Homo sapiens: one gene and its partner. The protein of the gene in region 1 interacts with the protein of each later gene in a biochemical or structural test. Each region holds a gene or a part of one and is shown on either strand. Other genes may lie near its edges. The genes, in order: UBR2 and NTAN1.

Region 1 (11,590 bases):
GTTACTTCTGAAAACTGTAAGATACTCTCTTTATCTCTTCAGTGTTCCGAAATTTTCTATGATATTTCTTGGTATATGAATCTTTTTTTATTCATTTTGCTAGGCGTTCAGTAAACCTATTGAATCTGAACATTCATGTCCTTCATTTCTGAGAATTTTTTATGTTGTTTCTTAAATAATTTTCTCTTGGATTTTCTTCTTTGAGGTAGTTCTGTTAGCTCACTGTTGCCCCTCTTGAACTGATAACCTAATTTTCTTATGATTTTTTTTGCTTTCTACATTGTCTCTGTTTTCCCTGAGTTCTGTTTCTCTGCTCCTTTGTTTTGGTTTATCTCTTTGATGCTTTCCTTAAATGTTTATTAGTCCTTGGATAACTATTTAAGCATAAGGCAATGAGCATAAGGATACCTGGTGGACAGGTTGGAGCTTGCTGACTTGTAAGCCTCACAATAAGGTGATCAGGACACCTCCAGTCTTTTGCTTGGTGACCCCCGAATGTCTGTGTAAAAACAACTTTCCCCTGAGGATTGTTCACTGGAAAAACTAATCTCTGTGGAAGTGGGTATACATTGCTGATGTTCTCAGGATGGGAAACAGGGTCAAGGATCTCATTGTGTAGTGTGTAGGCTTGTGCCCAGCACCCTGTTTTCAGCCCTGTGCCTCACCCCTGCTAAGTCAAAGAGTCTAACTCCTCTTGGGCAGGGGCAGTTTGCATTATCTCTGATCACTGCATACAATTATCTCTGGATATATGTTAAGTGGTTCAATTTCAATATAGCAAAGAGCTGTTAAGAAACCGAACCATTTGATTGATATGTGCACATTGTTCTGAGCTAATTTTATACATGTTTACTTCAGGATCCCTTATTCTGAGAGCATAAAAGAAATGCTAACGACATTTGGAACTGCTACCTACAAGGTGGGACTAAAGGTTCATCCCAATGAAGAGGATCCTCGTGTTCCCATAATGTGTTGGGGTAGCTGCGCGTACACCATCCAAAGCATAGGTAAGAGATTTACAGCTGTTTCTCTATAAGTCACAAGCATTCATTGATATGAATTAGGCATAGAATCTTGTTTTTAAATGAAATGTTTGAAGTGGGTAACAACGTGAAGAAATAATAAAAAGACTTAGAAGCAAGAAATGTAATGTACTGACAAAATACTAGATTGATAGTTCATAAATTAACCACAGCAACAGAGAACTCTTGGTGGTGGTGGTTATAGCTTCTTGTCAGTTGAAGGAATGTACTGTTCGTTTTTACTTTGTAACCAAATTTAATTCTTGTGAAATGACTTTGAAGATTCTGAAACTTGACAATATTGTACTTTCTGTAGGATTGGGGTTTTTTTAACCTTTTTAAGAAAATTATATTAAAATATACATAACATAACATTTACCATTTTAACCATCTTTAATCTGTAGAAAGAATTTTGAGTGATGAAGATAAACCATTGTTTGGTCCTTTACCTTGCAGACTGGTAAGTTCTCAGTTTATTCAGTTCATGATAGTGGGGCATGGAAATTAGGTGGTTCTGCTGCTTTTAATCTTATGGACCTGCAGTAGTTACTTACACCTTCACTTCTTTCGTAGTAAAAACCCATTTTCTGTAAGGATATTAAAAAGTAATGTTTGTGGTTTAATCTTTCTTTTAAATAAACTTCAGGAGGCCGGGCGCAGTGGCCCACGCCTGTAATCCCAGCACTTTGGGAGGCCGAGGCAGGAGGATCACCTGAGGTCGGGAGTTTAAGACCAGCCTGACCAACATGGAGAAACCTCGTCTCTACTAAAAACACAAAATTAGCCAGGCGTGGTGGCGCATGCCTATAGTCCCAGCTACTCAGGAGGCAGAGGCAAGACAATCGCTTGAACCCGGGAGGCAGAGGTTGCGGTGAGCTGAGATTGTGCCATTGCACTCCAGCCTGGGCAACAAGAGTGAAACTCCATCTCAAAAAAAAAAAAAAAAAAAAATTGCAGCCTGGCAGTATAGTGAGACCTCATCTCTACACAAATTTTAAAATTGGCTAGGAGTGGTGGCGTGGCATGTACCTGTGGTCCCAACTACTTAAGAGGCTGAGTTGGGAAGATCACTGGAGCTGGGGAGGTTGAGGCTGCAGTGAGCCATGATTGTGCCCCTGTACTCTAGGCTGTGCAACAGCACAAGATCCTATCTTTAAAAAAAAAAAAAAGAAGAAGAAGAAGCAGAAGAATGTATATTCTAGCTCCACTTTCTTGCTAACCATTCATATTTCAACTCCTGCAGTTTGGCTCCACTTCTAACACTTTCTGACTTCTATGAAATATCTCTTTCCAAGTTCACCAAATGATCTCCTGATTATCATTTTGCGTGGGCATTTTTTAGCCCTTGTCTTTGAAACCTCTACTTAATTGCTCATTCTGAAACTTTTATTTCTCTCCATTCCTTCTTCATTCTGAAACTCAATTTTCCCTTAATTTCTGTGACACTCTTGGCTTTCTTTCTGCCTCTGTGGCTCCTGCCTCTCAGCCCACTCTCCCTCCTCCATCCTGCAGTTGTCATTTTTAAACCTCCAGAGTTCTGCCATCTAATACTCTTCCCTGGTCAGCCCCATCTATGCCTCTGATTTCAGTTATATCCAAATGATCCCCACCTGTGTATCTCCAACCCAGATCTTTATCTTAGGTGTAGGTTATCTCTGCCTATTTTTTTAACCTGGATCTCCTACACATACCTAAAATTCAATCCAAATTAATTTTTCTTCCTATAGTCCCTGTTTTAGTTAATTTCACCACTATTCATCCAGGAGAAACCAGAAAATTGAAGTCTTTTTTTTTTGAGATGGAGTCTCACTCTGTTGCTCAGACTGGAGTGCAATGGCACAATCTCGGCCCACTGCAGCCTCTGCATCCTGGGTTCAAGCGACTCTCCTGTCTCAGCCTCCCGAGTAGCTGGGATTACAGGTGCATGCCACCGTGCCCAGCTAATTTTTGCGTTTTTAGTAGAGATGGGGTTTCACCATGTTGGCCAGGCTGGTCTCAAACTCCTGACCTCAGGTGATCTGCCCATCTCGGCCTCCCAAAATGCTGAGATTGCAGGCATGAGCCACCATTCCCGGCCTAGATACATTTTTTAGCCTGGGCATTCACATTCAGTTGGTCAGCAGAGTCTGACAAATTCTCACCATTCCTTCTTCTACTTGTTTGGTTCAGCCCCATATTATTTCTTGCCTAGATTATCATAGCAGTTTTTACCCAGAATCTCACTCTTCTCTAATACGTTATTAGAGGGGCTCCTCAAAAGCAATCCTGTTCATATTCTTCATACTTTTACAAACTTCTTAACCTATTTCTCCATTATCACCTCCTGCCAGTTCCCACCCCTGTGGTCCAGACTTGTAGAATCACTGCCAGTTCCTCAATGCTAGTTCCCATGCCTTTGCACATTCCATTTCCTCTGCCTAGAGTACCCTAAGCAGACTGCTACTCTTTCAGATGCTGTTCAAGCTTTCCCTTCCCTTAGAAAGCCCTCTGAACCATGTACTGTGAGTTAGAGACCTCTCATCTGTGATGCCTGCCTCCTTCCCCACTTTCTTCCTTTCCCACCCCAGGACTTTAAGCTCTTTGAGAGCAGGAGGGGGAGAATGGGTTTTATTTGAAGATCTTCAGAACCAAGACCTAGTGTATATAGTAGGACCTCAATATTTATTGAACCAAACATTACAGAAAATTTGGAAAATGAAAAAACAAGCAGGAAGAAAAAAGTCATCAACTTATCACATACCCATCTTTTTCCATTAGCATATTTATGCTTGATTACAATTGGTACTCACATGTAGCTTTGTTTCTGCTGTATTCTTTAAATCAAGAGTTTTCTTATTACTGCTACTTAGTCCTCATAACAATTTTTAATAGCTGCAGGCACCCTCATTTGTACCACCATCTTCTTAGACAGTTTCCCCAATATTTGGAGTATCTCTTTAGGATACTCTACATTTTACGGAAGAGTATCCACATTTTAGAGGATCTCTTTAGGATAAACATAAGAGATATGTGTTTTAGGGTATCTGTTTAGGATAAACATAGAGAAATACTGCATCCGCATCTTGGCTTGTTTATTTGTTTTTTGAGATAGAGTCTCGCTCTGTTTTCCAGGCTGGAGTGCAGTGGTGTGATCTCAGCTCACTGCAACCTCTGCCTCCAGGGTTCAAGTGATTCTCCTTCCTCAGCCTCTCGAGTAGCTGGGATTACAGGTGTGAGCCACCACACCCGGCCTGCACTGGCATCTTGGGAGTGTCCCTTGCTTTCTGTCAGATGCGTATATTCTATATTCTTTTCTTTTCCAGAGAAAACCAGCAACATGGTGGCAAAGAGATAGATTTCATTTATTCAGCACACACTTAGACATTTCCCATTCCATTTATCCTGTGTTAGAGGCATGTCATTGAGATGTCATAGATCTAGTTCCATACCATCTAGAGCAGTTTCATTGTGCATCCAGCTGTGCTCTGAACTAGCATTCCTGAAAGAGAACTGCTTTGCATTTTTGTTTTTTGTTAATTGCGTTGGTTTATTTTAGGATGACTGTCTTAGGTCATTGACGAGATTTGCCGCAGCACACTGGACAGTGGCATCAGTTTCAGTGGTGCAAGGACATTTTTGTAAACTTTTTGCATGTGAGTATTAATACATTTATAACATGTTGTAATTTTTCATCCTCTGAAATTTTGTTTTTAATGGTACAGCTTCTCTCAGTAATGAATTAAATATTTAGTAGTACTGGTTTTCTTATATATAAGCTCTAGCTTATAAATTCTCATGTGTCTTGCAAGAAGATAAATTTAAAGCAGATTATATGCATTTTAACATGTTGGCATATGAAATATGCTAATGTATTTCTCTTTAAATCTGTAGCACTGGTGCCTAATGACAGCCATGAGGAACTTCCATGCATATTAGATATTGACATGTTTCATTTATTGGTGGGTATTGTGCAGTTTGTTTGGACTTCTACGTCATACTATGTAACTTTACCTTAGGTTTGGTGAGCAGTGTAGTGGCAGACAGGAAGGAGTTATGTGATTTCCTTACCCCTTCTGAGTATAATTCTTTTATGAGAAACCTCAAAAAGAAAATATTTAGGAACCTAGTTGAGAGACTTGACCTGGTTATCGAGACGTCCTCTGACTCTTATTTTGCTTTATGGCTGAGGTTAGTATTTTAACCTCTCTGTGCTTTTAACCTGTAAAGAGATAAAAACACCAGCAACGGGTCAGGTGTGGTGACTCATGCCTGTAATCCCAGCACTTTGCGAGGCTCACCCCAGATCACTTGAGGTCAGGAGTTTGAGAGCAGCCTTGCCAACATGGTGAAACCCTATCTCTACTAAAAATACAAAAAATTAGCTGGGCGTGGTGGCACATGCCTGTAATCTCAGCTACTCAGGAAAGTGAGACAGGAGAATCACTTGAACCCAGGAGGCGGAGGTTGCAGTGACCAAGATTGCATGACTGCACTCCAGCCTGGATGACAGAGCAAGACCCCATCCAAAAAAAAAAAAACAGCAACAGAAGCACTGCTGCTGGCCCATACAGTGCTTTTGTACATTTTCGAAAATCTGGCAGATACAGCCCTGTGGTCACACTACTTAGCAGCAGAGAGCCCCTTATAATTCAGGGAAAGGTATGTCCTCTGAGCCAGGACATCCTAGTGCTAAGACACACAGCTGTCCAAATAGTGGGTAGCCAAATTTCAGCCCTACCTCAACTGGGTTCCCTTGCACAGGGTACAGAGTGTACTGCCACACCCAGCAGCCCCGAGTGCTGTGCCTTTATTCTCTGGACCTCAGATTCTGCCCCTTTAAGTTGGTTAGTACCTACTTTATATGACTATGTCAGAACTCAGTGAGTTAATCCATGTAACACACTTAGAGCAATATATTCCTAATAAATGCGGCTATTACTGTTCTCATTGCTGCAACTAAAACCACCACCACTTATACTGCCATGCAGACAGCAGGAGGCCAACAGAGCTAGCATTTGTGTACCTGCCAGCTTTTACATACGTTCACACTTACATCTCTACAATTTACATGTAACATATTGTCTTTAGTTTACCAATAGGGAAACTGAGGCCTGATCAGAGATATTAATTTGTGTAAAACAGCTCATAAGAGGAGGAGGTAGGATTCATATCTAGATATTTATGGGTCCAAAACCCATGTTTTTTCAACTGCCTACAGTCCTGGAGAGAGTTCAGATACTGTTTTTGTTAACAATAAGCTATGTATAGAGGACCCACTGGATTAATGAAATCATAGTGCCCATCAAGAGTCCTGTAACTCAAGTCATTTCATGTAGCCAGTCCTATTGGATTTTCCAACATGGATGCCCTTTCTTTAAGAACAAAGATTTCTTAAAGGGAGGAGCTGAACTCAGGAGGGATCACAGTAAGAAAATGGAAATGTGACCAGGCGCGGTGGCTCACGCCTGTAATCCCAGCACTTTGGGAGGCCGAGGTGGGCGGATTACCTGAGGTCAGGAGTTCGAGACCAGCCTGGCCAACGTGGCAAAACCTCATCTCTACTAAAAATACAAAAAGTCGGGCATGATGTTGCACGCCTGTAATCCCAGCTACTCAGGAGGCTGAGGCAGGAGAATCGCTTGAACCCAGGAGGTGGATGTTGCAGTGAACCGAGGTTGCGCCATTGCACTCCAGCCTGGGCAACAGAGTAAGACTCTGTCTCAAAAAAAAAATCAAAATAAAAGTAAAAGTAAGAAGATGGAAATTTGCTTAGCTGTGAAAGGAAAGGCGATCTGTCTGATGTCCTGTGTTTGGTGCCTAGGTGGGCTTGGTGCTTGCATTTCCTGCGTTGCAGTGTCAGGATTTTTCAGGGATCAGCCTTGGCACTGGAGACCTTCACATTTTCCATCTGGTTACTATGGCACACATCATACAGATCTTACTTACCTCATGTACAGGTAACTCTTGCCTTTTTGTCAGTTTCTTGAAGGAAATACTTGAGTTTTCTGAGTTTTAAAAAAAGTATTAGAGGAAAAGGTATTTGGATGAGAATAACACATGAATAAGGCTGTTTTTTTCTGTGTATCTTCATATGAAAAGTTTTGAAACATTTCTTTCTCCTCTTAAAATTTCCTAGTAATGTGAATGTTTCTAGTTTTAATTTCATACATTCAGTAATATTTGTGTAGAATAGTAATTAAATCTTTTAGAATCTTATGTTTTAGAATGCCAATTTTGTTTTAACTTACATGTTTGTTAATGCCCACATGAATTCATCATTAAATTACGTTTTGCATTCAAAATTCTTGTTTTTCATACACTTTAAGACTATATTTATTTGATTTTACTTAAAACATGCCAGCTGGCTGTTTGGTTTGATTGAGATCAATACTGTGCTCCCACTTGAGGGATTACAATTTTGCATGTTTTCTAGGAATACTTCATGTTATATGTGAGTTTATGAATATATTTGCATGCTTAATGTCTTCAGTCCTTTTGATAACACTTAATTGGAAAATACAGAGTACTAGTATTTCCTTATCTTTCAGAAGAGAATGGCATGGATCAAGAAAATCCCCCTTGTGAAGAAGAATCAGCAGTTCTTGCTTTGTATAAAACACTTCACCAGTATACGGGAAGGTGAGTTAGTTATCTTTACATAACGCATTTCCCTAAATATTGCTAGATGATGATAGCATGAGAAAGGAATTCGTTTGTTAATTAGGGGAATTTGTTGTCTGTTGACATGTTTTTAAAATAAGACGTGGAGTGATCTGCAGAGCCTTTCTGAACTATTCATATACTAACATAATTGGAAATCTGGGAGAAAGGTGATAATATGCAGAGCTTCCCACATTTATTTGGCTGTGGAACCCTTCATTTGCTCAGGGATCTGGCAGAGACTAGAGGATAGATCAAATGTACTTTGGAAAGTTGATACTCTAAAACTTATGTTGTCTCATTCAGAATGGGAATTTAAAACTGCAAGTTAAATTGGCATAATTTATTTTTAAGGTAATATTCAGTAGTAGCAGGAATAAAATGAAATTATTAGAATTCCATGTATGGTTAGAGTCATGATTTGCTACAAATAGCAATTCAGTAGTTTGCTTAGCTTTCAACAGTATATATGTCAAGAATCTGTAGTCAGGAACCTATAAAAATGTCTGTTTTTTGACTATCCCATTTCTGAGAACCTACATTAACAAAATAATTCAACATATAGAAAAAAAACATATAGGCATATAAAGATGGACACTCCAGCCAGGCACGGTGTCTCACCCCTATAATCCCAGCACTTTGGGAGAATGAGGCTGGCAGATTGCTTGAGCCCAGGCATTTGAGACCAGCCTGGCCAACATGGTGAAACCCTGTCTCTACCAAAAAATACAAAAATTAGCCAGGCATGGTAGCATGTGCCTGTGGTTCTATCTTCTCAGGAGGTTGAGGTAGTCAGATCACCCAGGCAGGTGAAGGCTGCAGTGAGCCATCACACCACTGCACTCCAGACTGGACAAAAGAGTGAGACCCTGTCTCAAAAAGAAAAAGATGTACACTCTGATATTATTTATATTAGCAAATAATTGAAAGCAATCTAAGTGTTTGCAGGGGAATAGTTTGATATAGTGATGAATGTGTTCCAAAATATTATAAATCTATTTAAAATATGGCTCCTAGGAGCTGGGTGCAGTGGCATGTGCCTGTAGTCCCAGCTGCTCAGGAGGCTGAGGTGGGAGGATTGCTGGAGCCCAGTAGTTTGAGTCCAGCCTGGACAACTTTTCATTTTCCACATTTTCTCTTTATGTCACTATGTTACTTTTATAAATTTTAATAACATCACACCTGTAATCCCAGCACTTTGGGAGGCCAAGGCGGGCAGATCACAAGATCAGGAGATCGAGACCATCCTGGCTAACACAGCGAAACCCCGTCTCTACTAAAAATACAAAAAATTAGCCGGGCGTGGTGGCAGGCACCTGTAGTCCCAGCTACTCAGGAGGCTGAGGCAGGAGAATGGCGTGAACCCAGGAGGCAGAGCTTGCAGTGAGCCGAGATTGTGCCACTGCACTCCAGCCTGGGCGACAGAGCGAGACTCCGTCTCAAAAAATTTAATAACAGCATTGGAGGCTGTGTCACCACTTACACCTGGCATCCTATAATAACACACACCCACTTGCCTGTTAACTCACAACTTTTAAGCATACATGCCATCAGTTCCAAATGACAGTCAAGTCTGTTTTCACACTATAAGTACAGTGACCTTTTCTTAGTAGATTTCCCAATAATCTTTTTTTTCTTTTTTAGTGCCTTGAAAGAAATACCATCCGGCTGGCATCTGTGGAGGAGTGTCAGAGCTGGAATCATGCCTTTCCTGAAGTGTTCTGCTTTATTTTTTCATTACTTAAATGGAGTTCCTTCCCCACCCGACATTCAAGGTAATTTATACTTTCTTTCAAAACGTAGGGAGAGTTAGTAATCCTTTACTCCAGCAAATATAAAGATCACTTGCAAAAATGAAAATTGACTAAAAGTTCAAAGAATAGCTTATTGACTATGGTGATGTACACATTTATAGCATAAAATGTATGTTTATGCATATGTCTCCATTTATTTGGATCTCAGTAAATGACTGTTAAACTTCTGTGTAAATGTTTTTACACCTGCAAAGCCCTTCTCCCGTAAAGATCATAGTTTTGCTTTCAGATGTTAAAATGTTCAGTTATGTATTATTCATAAACAAGGTTCCTCAGATTTGAAAAGGTGAAAACTGACAATTTCAAGTGATTTTTAACTTGAAACATGCATAGCATTAAAATTTAGAATACCCATAATTGCACATAAATCTGATTTTAATCTGGGAATTGATTTGCTCTTTCATAGTTGTTTTCCATGTTCTGTTTTGATTCATTTCATAAAAGTAGTATGAATGTGGACTTGACTGTATCTCTGTATCCCACAGTGCCTGGCACTGGCCGTAGAGTACCTGCATGCAGTGCTACTCTCTGAAAGTTTGTCCACTGGCATTTCCATTTAGCTAGTTGCCTAGGAACCATATAAAAGAGTTTAGTCTTCCAGATTATTTGCAGTGATGATTAGAGTTGGTATTTAAATCTGTGTCTCGTGGTAAAACCATCTTGTATTTCTGTATTGGTTGATCCTTTTCCAGAGCACCCATACATTTTTATCATTTAATGTTCACAATAACCCTGTGCAGTAGATTGTGCAGGCACACCATTTTGCAAATGATAAAGCCGAGACACCAGGACATTGGGACCAGTTTGATGTAGGAGTCGCCTGACTGCACTTGACGCATTGCGTCATTTTCCATGGATTCCTTCCATGTGCCATTCTGTTAACTTCCTACAAGTTACGTACCTGGCAAATTGGAAGTCTTTCATCCTTTTTTTTTAAACTCTGCTATTGCTTAACTCTCATGCAGAATATGCCCTTAGTTGTTATATGCACTCTTTTCTTGTTCTTCATTTGCAGTTCCTGGAACAAGCCATTTTGAACATTTATGTAGCTATCTTTCCCTACCAAACAACCTCATTTGCCTTTTTCAAGAAAATAGTGAGATAATGAATTCACTGATTGAAAGGTAATGATTATATACTTTTCTTTGTTGTATTAAATAGCTCTATGGAACCAAACTTTAGTTATCACATATGTAGCAAAATTCTCAAGTAATGACCCTGGTAGAATTCAACACAAATAATTCAAACTATAATGGGTGGGCCTTTTGTTGTTGTTTGTTTTGTTTTGTTTTGTTTTTGTTTTTGTTTTTGTTTTGAGACTGAGTCTTGCTCTGTCACCCAGGCTGGAGTGCAGTGGCATGATCTTGGCTCACTGCAACCTCCACCTCCTGGGTTCAGGGGATTCTCCTGCCTCGGCCTCCCAAGTAGCTGGGGTTACAGGCATACACCACCATGCCTGGCTAGTTCTTTGACCACCATGTTGGTCAGGCTGGTCTCGAACTCCTGACCTCAAATGATTCACCCACCTCGGCCTTCCAAAGTGCTGGGATTACAGGTGTGAGCCACCGCACCTGGCCTATGAGTAGGCCTTTTTAGCTAAGGATCTGGCTTTTCAGTAAACTTTTTGCCAAGCTAGTGAATAGCATAAACAAATTTGCATGGAAGGGGAATAGTGGTAGAAATGTTGATTTCTTTACATGAACTTACTTGTTAAGGACTCTCTTCCATAGGTTTTTTCTTGTTTTTGTTTTTAAGAGATGGGGTTTTGCCATTTTTTCCAGACTGCCTTTGAACTCCTGGGCTGAGACATTCCTCCCACCTCAGCCTCCTGAGTAGCTGGGACTGCAGGCACATGCCATCACACTCAGCTTTTCATAGATTTTTAAAGCTGAAAGAACCCTTAAGGCTATCTAGTCCAATACCCTCAACTTTATATTTGAGAAAAGTGAAGTCTAGAGAAATTGGCCTGTCAATCATGTCAAGTTAGTGACTGAGTTAAATATATGGCTGTTCTGTCCACAAAACGGGGGAAAATATTTGCAAACTACATATCTGATAAGGGATTAACATCCAGAATAGGCCGGGCACAGTGGCTCACCCCTGTAATCCCAGCAC
Region 2 (12,215 bases), on another chromosome or scaffold:
CTTGCTTGCTCCAGAAGTCAGTGAGAAACAGGTGTGACTGCTCTAAAACTCAGAACACCTGTACAGGTGACAGCCTCTCATTTTCTCATTCCACTTCTTGCCTCATCTTAGTTCAGAATAACAGGGGAGAATTCAGAATTCCCTCTTGATTACTCCTGAGATACTTACCTTCTGCTTTGTTCTTTGAGGGAAGGGAAGAGAAGGGAGGGCGCAAAGGCGAATTTTTAACACTCATGTTCACAATTGGGTCACCACTCAAAAGCAAAGCTATTTGTGAGAAATTAATTACTGCTTTCACAAAGACCAAAAATCATGTCTCTCTTCAACACAGCTCCTACGATTTCCCAAAGAAATAAAAGCAAAAATTATCAGAAGAGAGAATGCCAGAAAACTAAAACAGTAGACTGCTTTGCTCTATTTTTTAATTTCTTTTTTTAAACAGGGTCTTACTGTCTCCCAGGCTGGAGTGCAGCGGCGAGATCGTGGCTCACTGCAGCCTCTGGCCTCAAGCAATCCTCCCACCTCAGCCTCCCAAGGAGCTGGGAACTACAGGCATGAGCCGACACACCTGGCTAGTTTTTGTACTGTTTGTAGAGATGGGGTCTCCCTGTGTTGCCCAGGCTGGTCTCGAACTCCTGGCCTCAGGTGATCCTCCTGCTTCAGCCTCCTTTGCAGTAGCTGGAACCACAGGCGCACGCCACCACACTTGTGCTAGGATTATAGGCATGAGCCACTGTGCCCAGCCTCTACTTTATTTTTAATTTTTTTTTTTTTTTTTTTAGAGACAAGGCCTCACTCTGTTGCCCAGGCTGAAGTGCTGTGGCCAGATCATAGCTCACTGCAACCTCAAACTCCTGGGCTCAAGCAATCCTCCCACCTCAGCCTCCTTTGCAGTAGCTGGAACCACAGGCGCACGCCACCACACTTGGCTAATTTTTGCTCTTTTAAGTAGTAAAAAGAGTTTAGCCAAACTTCCCTTCTTTGGAAAACCACACAGTCCTACTTTATAAATTCATATGCAAGTAGTCCCAGTTTTCTTAACCTCTAATATGCTCTAGACACTAATATTTGCTTAAAAAAAAAAAAGCTTTTCCCTCAGTCCCTCATCCCTATTTCCCAGTTCCTATTCAATGGCAGTATTCTCTTAACCCAGTGACCAGCAGATTTTCTGAAAAAGGCCAGACAGTAAATATTTGGGGTTCTACAAGGCCGCAGTCTCTGTCACAATTGCTCAACTCTGCTGTTATTATGAAGTGAAAGCAGCCATAGACAATACAGATGTGGCTGTGTTCCAATAAAACTTTATTTATAGGTGACACCGAAGTTTTAATTTCAATACCATTTCCCATGTTACAAAATATTATTTTGATTTTTCTCAACCTTTGAGAAATATAAAGACCATTCTTGGCCTATAGGCTATACATAAGCAGGGTCCGGCCCATGAGCTGTGGCTTGTTGACCTGTGTCTTAGCCAATCACCTAGCTGTGACCTGGGGGATGATCATGTGACCCTCACCCCTGCTGTCCTGTTTATCAATTCTTCCTTTATAAACAGGAGAGGGGCATGAAGGTGATCTGTGAACTGTAAAGCACAATGCTATATAAGAAATTATGAGGCCCAACACACTGGCTCACGCCTGTAATCCCAGCACTTTGGAGGCCGAGGCGAGATGATCGCTTGAGGTCAGGAGTTTCAGACCAGCCTGGCCAACATGTTGAAGCCCCATCTCTACTAAAAATACAAAAATTAGCCGGGCATGGTGGCAGATGTCTGATACTCAGGAGGCTGTGGCAGGAGAATCACTTGAACCTGGGAGGCAGAGGTTGTAGTGAGCCAAGATCGTGCCATTGCACTCCAGCCTGGGTGACAGAGCAAGGCTCTGTCTCTCAAAAAAAAAATAAATAAATAAATAATAAAAGCAGGAACTAAGCTACGCTGCGAGCATCTTGTAGACTCTGTGGAACCGTATTACCCAAGATGTTGCAGGACTGGTTACCGAGTACCCAGTGACTGGTTAAGAGTGACTAAGGGAGGGCTCTAAACAGCTCTGGCCAAAGGAACTTCATGCTGGGATGGCCACCGTCTATATTCACACTGTCTCATTAGTAGCCATGCTGTCTGCTCGGCACTTGAAATGTGGCTACTGCAACTGAGGAACTGAGTTTCAATTTTATCTAATTTTAATTGATTTTTAAGTTAAATCCTAAGTAACCAGATGGCTCGTGGCTACTGTACTGAATAGCGCAGCTCCAGAGTCAAGGGCAGGCTGCCAGGGTTCCAATCCTGGCTTCACCACTCCCAGGATGTGGGGCCTGGGGCCAGTTTCCCAGCCTCTCTGTGCCCCACAGTCCTCATCTGTAAAATGGGAATAGCAGTAACTCTTGCTGTGGTGCTTGGCAGCTTCCACTGTATGACTTATTGTTATTATTTGCTAGTCATAGCTACACACAGGCTTCTAACTGTTGGTACTCCATACTCAGAACACATCGTTACATGAAAAAGACACATTATAAAACAACATATAGTAAGCTATCATTTTTTTAAAAAAAGTAAATTATATACAAAGAAAAACCTTCATTAGGACTTTCACCAAACTAAAGAATGGTTGTAGTCATACTTTTTTTTCTGTATTATTATATTTTGCTTTCCTACAAAGAGGACACCCTGTTTTATTATATAAAAATAATCCAGGCCAGGTGGAGTGGCTCACACCGGTAATCCCAGCACTTTGGGAGGCCGAGACGGGCAGATCACTTGAGGTCAGGAGTTCAAGAACAGCCTGGCCAACATGGTGAAAACCCGTCTCTACTAAAAATAAAAAAATTAGCTGGGTGTGGTGGCATGCACCTGTAATCCCAGCTACTTGGGAGGCTGAGGCAGGAGAATCGCTTGAACCTTGGGAGACAGAGGTTGCAGTGAGCCGAGATTGTGCCACAGCAATCCAGCCTGGGCCACAGAACAAAACTAAGTCTCAAAAAAACCAACCAACCAAACAAACAAACAAAAAACCCAACCTTTAATGTCTCCCTGTTGCTAAGTAGGTGAAAGGTCCATCTAAGCCCCTTGGTCATTTGGTCATCTGGGTACAATCCACCCCTGTAAGGTTACTTTCCATGCTTCCCCTCCTCACCCGGGCTGCTCCGGAGAAACTGGCCAGGACACCCACCCACTGGGCCCTTCCCCTCCTGCCCGCCGCGCCCCAGGCGGCTTGCCCAGCTGCGATGCCCTCACCCTTCTTCTCCTTTTCAAATCTCTCTCGTGCCTGCATCCTTCTTCACTTACACTGCCGCAAATCAAAGTGATCGCCCCCTTCCAAAGTTCCTGTAACACAAACTGGTCCCCAGTACACAGCCTTTCTAGGACATGTCTTCTTAAATAGGCCAAAACCTTCCTTCGAGAGAAGCAGCCCCGGTATGTCACCAAATCTCCCTCCACACTTAAGTGTGCAGCCCGGGACACCCATCTAACTTTCTATCACGGACATTTTCAAACAGACATAAAAGTAGAGCATCCCCTAAATTCTTCAGGCGGCTGAAATTATTTTTCCTTGGTGAGTCCTACTCTTGACTTCGCTAGCTAACAGGACAGTAACACAACGCAAGGATAAAGTGACACGCCACCACGCCTAGCTCGGTGCATGTTGGCTAACAGACGATGGTCGGTCCTGAAATGCAAGCTGAGAATCACACAGAGCTGTCTGCCTTCTCCCCGTCAGTAAGTCCTTGTCACCCTTCAGAACACGTTCAGGGGTCATTTTGTGACCTCATTTATGCAGCAAATCTTTACTGAGCGCCAATTCTATGCCAGGGACCGTCCTACACTCTGAGGATACAAAAGTGAGGACACTACTCTTATCTGCCTTCAGGAGGCTTACATTCTGGCGACAGACCAATAGAGAACAAACAAGCAAACAAAATAATCACAAACTGTACAGCTGTGACAGATGAAACCTCTAAATGCCTTCCCCAACCCAACACACTTGGTCAGGTTCCTGTGCTTCCCATCTCAGAGTGAAAGGGGACGCTTTTTCTTTATGGTACTTAACAGTTTATAGTATCTGAGCCTTCTTCATCAGAAACCATTCTCCCTTCTAGACTATAAACACTCCGAGGGCAGGGACAGTGATCAGTACGTTGCCCAACAGATATTAGGGGCTCGATATTTGACTCTCAAATCAAGGAACTGATTGATTCCCCTTTAACAGGATCTATGGCAAATAGGACGTCTGCCCCCGCCGCCACGCCCCGCTCTTTTTAAAACCTGAGAACCCCCTTGCCAACAGTCCCTGCATAAGCGTGGACAAGAGTTCAGAGATCTATTTGAGCACAAAAGCAGAAAAAACAAAAACAAAACCCGTGCATCAGGGCGTGGTCCTATGGCCCAGCTGCGGAAAGCAGGGCTCTCTCTCCCGGCTAAAAATAACTCGGCGCCCTACGCCCCGGGGGTAGGGGAGAGAGAGGAGGAAGGACTGGGGGTCCCCGCCAAGATCCCCCAGGCCAAACGCTCTCCGAAGCCCACCCTGGAATAACCTCCTGCTTCACGGGGACGCAAGGACGAAGCAACGTTCACCGCAGGCTGCGGGTCCCCGAAGGCGGGCGGCCGGATTTGCCTAAACGGACCCAGCCCTATGGGGGCTGCAGCCGCCCCGTCGGGGAATGGGGGTCCCGGCGTGTCCCCGAGCCGCAGTGCTGTGCGACCTTGGGCAAGTCACCTAACCTCTCTGGGCCCCCGTCCCCTCCCTTGTCAGAGAGTGGCCTCCGGGGCAGCCCGCTGAAGTCTAAAGAAGGCAAAAACTCCCCGACCCCTCAAGGGGAAGACGCGAGCCGACGGCCGGGGCTCCGGATGTGCCAACAGCGCCAAGTTTCAAGTCTGTGTCGCGTGAGGGGGGCGCTAGCCCGCCCTGCAGCTTCCCCTCGGGCCCGCCCCGAAGCCCCGCGCCGCGCCCCACTCACCTCCAAAGGCGGGTGGGCTCGGACGAGGTCCCCGGCTGACTGCGGCAGCCGCACTCGCCGCCCCTCGACGAGCAGCGGCATCGCGGAGGCGGCCGCCCAGGCAGGCCCAGGGAGGCGGCGGCCCCCCGCTTTGCAGCCCCGGGCCGCCCGCCGCCCCCGCCCCTCGGGCCGCGCGTCCCGCCTCGTCCTGCCCCGCCCCACCGCGGGCGCTGCCGGGAAGTGGAGTCCAGGCGGAGGCGGTGCCGGCCGAAGAGACTGGAGAAATCCAGGACATGGCCGCAAGGCCTCACGGGAAATGTAGTCCAAAGCCAGGAAGTGGCCCTGGAAGCAGCGCGCGGCCCGCCTCCTCCGCAAGGGGCGCTGGGAAGTGTAGTCCCAAAAGCGTGGGAGTGAAGGAGCGGGGAAAGGAGAGCTGCCAGGGAGCAGCTGCACCAGCCAAGAGAGCCTCCGGGCGAGTTCCTGGGGCGGGTTCTGGCTCCGACTGCTGCGCTTTAGGTCATTGCTCCACGCTTCCCAGGTGTGTGACCTTCCACAAGCTTGAGTTTGGGACCCTGCTGTGCAGCTCCGTAGGATTGCATTCAATGAGTAATAATAAACCTAATCAGGCGGGCACGGTGGCTCACGCCTGTAATCCCAGCACTTTGGGGGGCCGAGGCAGGAGGATCGCTTGAGGCCAGGAGTTCGAGACCAGCCTGGGCAACATAGTGAGACCCACCCTCCCCCATACCCTCGTCTCTGCCAAAAATTTAAAAATTAACTGGGCACGGTGGCATGCACCTGTGATCCCAGCCACTCTGTAGGCTGAGGCGGGAGGATCTCTTGACCCCAGGAGTGGGAGGCTGCAATGAGCTATGTTTGGGCACTGCAGAGGGACACTCTGTTTCTGAAAATAATAAAAATAAATGTAAACGGTCTTAAACTGAGAAAATAGATCCTGAACTGTGCTAGCCCCACGTACTAAAGAGATCATCGATTAACACGTCGTGATTGGAATGCAATAGGCCACTCACAGGTGGGCTGGGAACCGTGGGGGAAGGATTTGCGGATACTGACTGCAGAGCCCCTAATCTGAGGACAGGTCCCCAAGGTGAGAGGCGTCTCACCGTGGAGCTCTCTTCTAAAACTTGGAAATATTGCTCAAATTCATCCAACTCTGCAGCACATTAACAAAAAGTAATTTTACAAAAGATACAGAGGAGCCACATGATACAGCAGAAACTTTATTAGAATTTTATCATCTGTATTCATCGTCTTCTTTCATAAATCTCCCCCTCAGCTTACACACCCCGTTCAACAAAAATACCAGGAAATTTACTAAAGAAATGACTGTAGAAGATGGTGTTCCCATCGCCAGGTTACCCAACTTCTCACCCAAAATAACTCTATTTCTAGCTACCAGGAAATTATTTCTCTGTATTATTACACCTACATTTCTCATTTGTCCTTACAAATGTAGGAGCTACTATCAACACCTCATTTGTCATTTGTCCTCACAAATGTAGGAGCTACTATCAACACCTCCGTTATAACAGATACAGTAACTTGCTCAAAGTGGTAGAAATAAGTAGTAGAACGAAGACTGAACCTAGCTTTGCATGATTCCAAAGGCAGTGCTCTCCATCACTATAAGATGCTCCTAGACTGTACTGTAAACAACTCATTCTAATGCAGGTGACATTAAGTAAGTCCCAACTAGGAAGCTCGGAGCTAAAAACAGGGTTTGAAACCAGGGTGATCAATGACCAGCAGGCTGGCCTGGAGCAAGTTACTTAACTTCCCTGAACTGGTTTTGTAGAATAGCATGTTTGTTTCACCTGGTACATACTAAACACTAAAGATAGCTATTATTGGAATTGCAGAGCAAAGAGTAGTCAATCAAAGTGAGGCATTTGGAAGTGCAAAGGTGAAGAACAAGGTTCTGTGGGTTCTGCCTGGGGCTGGTGCAGTTTGCCTAACTGGTTTTTCACTTTTGGGTGATCTTTTTTCAAGTAATCTCAGGTTATCAATCTCCTAGGCTGAGTACTGTGTTAAAGGACTAAATGAGCCAGATAACAAGCAGGAAACCACTCCCCTACCTCTCTTCCCACCCAGCTCCACAAATTTTGGTCTACAGGCAATGAGGAAGCAATAGCAGGTGTGTGGCCAGCACTGCGGCTCATGCCTGTAACCCCAGCACTTTGAAAGGCCGAAGGAGGACTCACTTGAGCCCAGAAGTTCGAGACGAGCCTGGACAACACAGGGATCCCTGCTTCTCCAACAAATACAAAAATTAGCTGGGCATGGTGGCAGGCCTGTAGTCCCAGCTACTCGGGAGGATCAATCAAGCCCTAGAGGTCAAGGCTGCAATGAGGCACGACTGTGCCACTGCACTCCTGCCTGGGTGATTACAGCAAGACCGTCTCAAAAAAAAAAGAAAAAGAAAAAGAAAGCACTAATTACAATGTTGGAAAGCCTGTTTCTTTAAGATAGGAAACCAACCTGCCTCACAAGATGGCTGATGGCAAAGTTCAAAGAATATATACAGGGAAATATTTTTTAAATTACACTTTTTTGAGGCCAGACATGGTGGCTCACGCCTGTAATCCCAGCACTTTGGGAGGCCGAGGCGGACAGATTGCTTGAGGTTAGGAGTTCAAGACCAGCCTGGCCAACATAGTGAAACTCCATCTCTACTAAAAATACAAAAATTAGCCAGGCATGGTGGTGCGTACCTGTAGTCCCAGCTACTCAGGAGACTGAGGTGGGCGGATCACTTGAGCCCAGGAGGCGGAGGTTGCAGTTGTTGAGCTGTGATTGCACCACTGCACTCCAGCCTGGGTGACAGAGTGAGACTCTTGTCTCAAAAAAAAGAATGATGAACATTATACAGAACCTTAGTAAATATTTAGTGAAAGGATCCCAATTTGTGTTTCAAATTTTTTAATGTAGAGATGGGGGTCTCACTATGTTGCCCCAGCTGATCTCAAACTCCTGGCTTCAAGAGATCCTTTTGCTGGCCTCCCCAAGTGCTCAGATTACAGGCATGAGCTACCACACCTGGCCCCAAATTATTAGATACATTATAAATCCTACTCAACCATCCAGAGTCAGACTGAAACACACAAAAGCATTTGATGGAAGAAAACATGGTGGAGCTTTGGATGTTCAATTAGTTGAAACAAGAAAAGTATGCAGTTGTACACCAATGAACAGTTCTCAAGGCAGCCTGCACCTTCGAATCACCAGGGGGCTTTAAAAACCATCCATGTCCAGACCCCTCTTCTGGAGACTGATTCAATCAAAGGTTGAGTTGGTGTGTGACGTGAGCCTGGGCATCCTTAGTTTCTCAGCACTCCAAGGGACTGATTCTAGGGCACAGCCAGGGTTAAGAACCACCATCGTAAGCACTGCCCGGCAAGGGAAACACGCTGGTTCCTCCTCTCCAGTTCAGATCTAAGTTGGTACCAGGGAGGTAGGTATTATGGAAGAAATAGAAGTTATCTTTAACCAAAAAAAACTTCCCATGGAAGTGCTTCCTTTCTTGCAAGAAAACAACAGCCATTAACTTGTACATGCATCGAATCCTTAAAGCCTTACACTAGTATCTTATTCCCATTTTACAGTTTAATTAGCGCTCAGAGAGGTTAGGTAACTTGCTCAACGTCAAACAGCTAGCTAGGAAAGGAAGCCCATGGCACTTGGTAAGTTGACTTGTAAAAATTCAGCCACTTCTCATCAAGGAAGACCAAACCAGAGCACACAGACAAAAGGACAGACCCTGGAGACTCCTACAACTGACAGCTTTTTAGTGAAAGGAAAAATTCCCATTGTTGGCATGTAATTTATAAGGAGATTTCACAGTATTTTTCCCCATAGATGTCCCTTCAAAGCATGTAACTTTTTGAAAGAAGTGTCTGCTTCCCTTGGACCTGCTCAAGCCTCAATCACTCTTTGCTGGGTGTGATTAAGGAGAGTCGCGGATACTTCATATAGTGCACACGGAAACCATCCTCACCCCGGCATGCAATGAATTCCATCAAGCTCCCCGCCACACCAGCACTATTTCTCCCTCTTCAACAGCAATGCCTCAGGAGTTTTCCACTGCAAAATGCTTTAATACATTAAATTAAAAAAAAAAAAACAAAACAGAAATTGAAAGAACATGTATTGAGGTACCTTTTATTGGTATAAGAACGTAAGTTCCAGATTAACCATGTCATTGTTTCATTTTCACCATGGATTTTTTTTCACAAACTCCTTTGAAATTAAACAGACTTATATGTAAATGTCTTTCTACATTAAAACTACTTCCCAACCCACAAAGACCCCACTTACTACTAATTTCTGGGGAATTTCGTTTACTCGTTTTATCTAATATTAAAAAATCAACATTTTGCCAGCAGTTAAAAAGACAACCTTAAAGTTCTCAAATTACTTTCCACCAAACCCGGAAAAGAAAACCACCCATATCCAAAACTTTAAAGCAATAAAAATTTCTATTTTCCAAAAAAGTATTTACAGACTGAAATTCAAACTCTACATTGCCATCAATGTAATTATACAAGTGCATACAAAGCCCTGGAAAAGAGGAAGTATTTCATTACAAAATATTTATGATCAAGAAAATATTGCTTGCCTTTAAATAAAGTGGCAGAAAATAAATATGCTTAAAGATGGCCATTTTCACAAGTAAACAAAAAAGTACACATGTAAGAAACAAAGTGAAAATGCTTGAGCTTCAAAATGACTCTAGCAGTGTTTGCACAAATTTGTTTTAAAGCGAGGTCTTCTGAAGACTTCCTCTGTTTAGTTATAAAAATACAAAAAGAGGCTTTAGAGAAGGATTTCACCAAGCCGAATGTGCGATGCACACAGCCATCAGACCAAGACTGCACTAGCAACTTCCACCTATTGTTGTGAGCAAAACCGTACACCAAATAATCTAAAAAAATTTTCCTGTTTCCAACAAAGAAATTCCCAATAACTAAGTGATGCAGATCAAAACTGACTCGATCTAATGGCCACCAAGGAGCAGTTCTAGATCTAAGGGGACACTTGAGAGCCAAGGGGTCAAATCCAATCTCATGTGTTTTACACAAGCCCGAACTCACTTTCAGTCTGTGTGAATTACATCTACCTGGACCTCCATTTTTGTCTTTTAAATCCATTTTTTCGCTGTGCCAAGTATATTACACATCTGATTCTGTTTCCCTATATCCTCTCTCTCTTCCCTATGGGCTTTTATTGGTCTCTGAAGTCCCTGGAGATCTTCAGTGCCAGCTCCAACTCTGTGTCCCAGACCATGTCGGGCCAGCTCTCAGCTTTCCTTCTGTCTTCTCTACACTCCCTTGAAATCCCAACAGACAAATACCAATACAGCAGAAGGTGAACAATGTAGCCAAAATAAACACTTTCTAGTTAAAGTCTTTAAATAGAAGTTTTATCTTAGAGGATTCTTCACTGAAAGCTCATCAGTCAAGTCCTAAGACCATGGATCTGACAAAAACCCATGTTAAAACAGCAACCCGTAAAACAGTCTGCTGCCTATATTAGAAATTACCCAGTAATTGTGTCAAAAAGCTGTTAACACAAAAAATGTACATATTAAACAAGCAAATCCTTCCAAATGTATCATCAACCCCACTGTAAAAGATTGCACATGATAGTCTTCATTTTGTCTGTAAGGGGAACAACAACAACAAAAAAACCCAGTCTTCAGATGCTTGATTCAGTCGAACCTGGAAGTGCCACAGCCGAGGCAGGCACTCGCTCTAGTTCAATGCCATCAATGCCCAATGGCACAAGCTGGGTGCTGAGGGCATGACAAGTGATGGGGAATCCCAAATGTCACATCTCAGTCACAAATTTCTGCCGTCAGAGGGGACTGGGTTGCATGTACAACACGGGTGGGGAGCCCACACTACTTGAAGGACTTCGGAAATGCGTGTCAAAGGAGCTTGGTGTGATCCCAATCACGGTATCATTCTGGGGCACTTCGCCTTTCAGAAAGTCATCATCTTCATCTTCCACTATGTCCTGCAGAAACATCAGAAATCATCAGTAACATCACCAGTGCTGACTGAAAAGCTTTCAACAATTCCTTCCTCAGGAAGGTGTTAACGTTTGTAAAGATGGTGAAGAAAATATCTTAATTTCAAAAGAAAGCCAGTGTAGTGGCACACGCCTGTAGTCCCAGCTACTCAGGAGGTGGAGGTGGGAGGACTGCTTGAGCTCAAGAGTTCCGAATCCAGCCTGGGCAACATAGCGAGACCATGTCTCTAGAAAAACAGAACAGAACAAAAGCTCCCTCTGATAAGCACTTCCTTCTTACCAACATACCCACATAACTGCTCATCACACATTGTAATCATTTGTTTCAAGTCTGACTTGCAAACAGATTTGAAGCTCAATGGGGACAGGAAACATGACGAGTCATTCTTGCCCAGTGTTAGGAACTCTTGTACCTAACACAATGTGAATGAATTACACGCCCCTCAACAAATGAAACATAAAGAAAAAGATGAAAGGGGCTTTCCAATGATTACTTATTAAAAACAACAACAAAAAAGCCATCTTGAAGCTGCTTTTAATGAGAAAACAAATGTGCTCCCAAGCAACAGAGCAGCGAAATTCTTTATTACTGGATTCTAACTTTCCTCTCTAACTGTAACTGTCTCAGCTCCACCTCATGTGACCTGGAGGGTATGTTGCAACCTGCGTCTTCACCACCCATTCATGAAGATCTATAAAACTAATGTAAACTGCTGGGGCAATTTCAACATGAGTCAACTGGAGATTGTTACTTGGTAAGAATGCGCAAGTGGCAAAGATCTAAATTCATTCAGCTAATTTGTAATTAACCTTCGCTTCTCACATGTCAGTATGTGAAGTGTCTGGTTTAAGCAATTTATCCAAAAAAGCCATAGACTCTTTAAATAACAACAAAACCTGGGCCTGGAATTTTATAAAGGCAGAATGAGTAAGACACGGTTTTGGTGTGCTTTTTTAAAGAAAACAGGGTCTTGCTCTGTTGCCCAGGATGAAGTGCCATGCTGCATTTACAGCTCACTGCAGCCTTGACCTCCCACCTCAGCTTCCAGAGGAGCTGGGATTACAGGTGTGCACCACCACGCCCAGCTAATTAAAAAAATTTTTGTAGAAACAGGGTGTCACTGTGTTGCCCAGGCTGGTCTCCAGCAATCCTCTGGCCTTGACCCCCTAAAGTGCGGGGATTACACGCACGAACGACTTGCCACTTACTATCTCACTGTGACCTGGAACCA

What was found.
Region 2: the proteins of UBR2 (region 1) and NTAN1 form a complex in vitro, tested with the Homo sapiens proteins (one study listed by BioGRID).

Annotation. Positions count from the first base shown.
Region 1 is NC_000006.12:42,669,234-42,680,823, forward strand, and holds part of UBR2 (E3 ubiquitin-protein ligase UBR2), read left to right. Parts: intron 1-858; coding exon 859-1,007; intron 1,008-1,426; coding exon 1,427-1,482; intron 1,483-4,557; coding exon 4,558-4,654; intron 4,655-4,892; coding exon 4,893-4,960; intron 4,961-6,822; coding exon 6,823-6,958; intron 6,959-7,549; coding exon 7,550-7,640; intron 7,641-9,305; coding exon 9,306-9,436; intron 9,437-10,490; coding exon 10,491-10,599; intron 10,600-11,590. UniProt on the Homo sapiens protein: E3 ubiquitin-protein ligase which is a component of the N-end rule pathway.
Region 2 is NC_000016.10:15,050,938-15,063,152, forward strand, and holds the start of NTAN1 (protein N-terminal asparagine amidohydrolase), read right to left. Parts: upstream 5,138-12,215; 5' UTR 5,035-5,137; coding exon 4,954-5,034; intron 4,878-4,953; exon of another isoform or gene 4,718-4,877; intron 1-4,717. Other genes in the region: RNA polymerase I-specific transcription initiation factor RRN3, read right to left, coding at 10,807-10,968. UniProt on the Homo sapiens protein: N-terminal asparagine deamidase that mediates deamidation of N-terminal asparagine residues to aspartate. Required for the ubiquitin-dependent turnover of intracellular proteins that initiate with Met-Asn.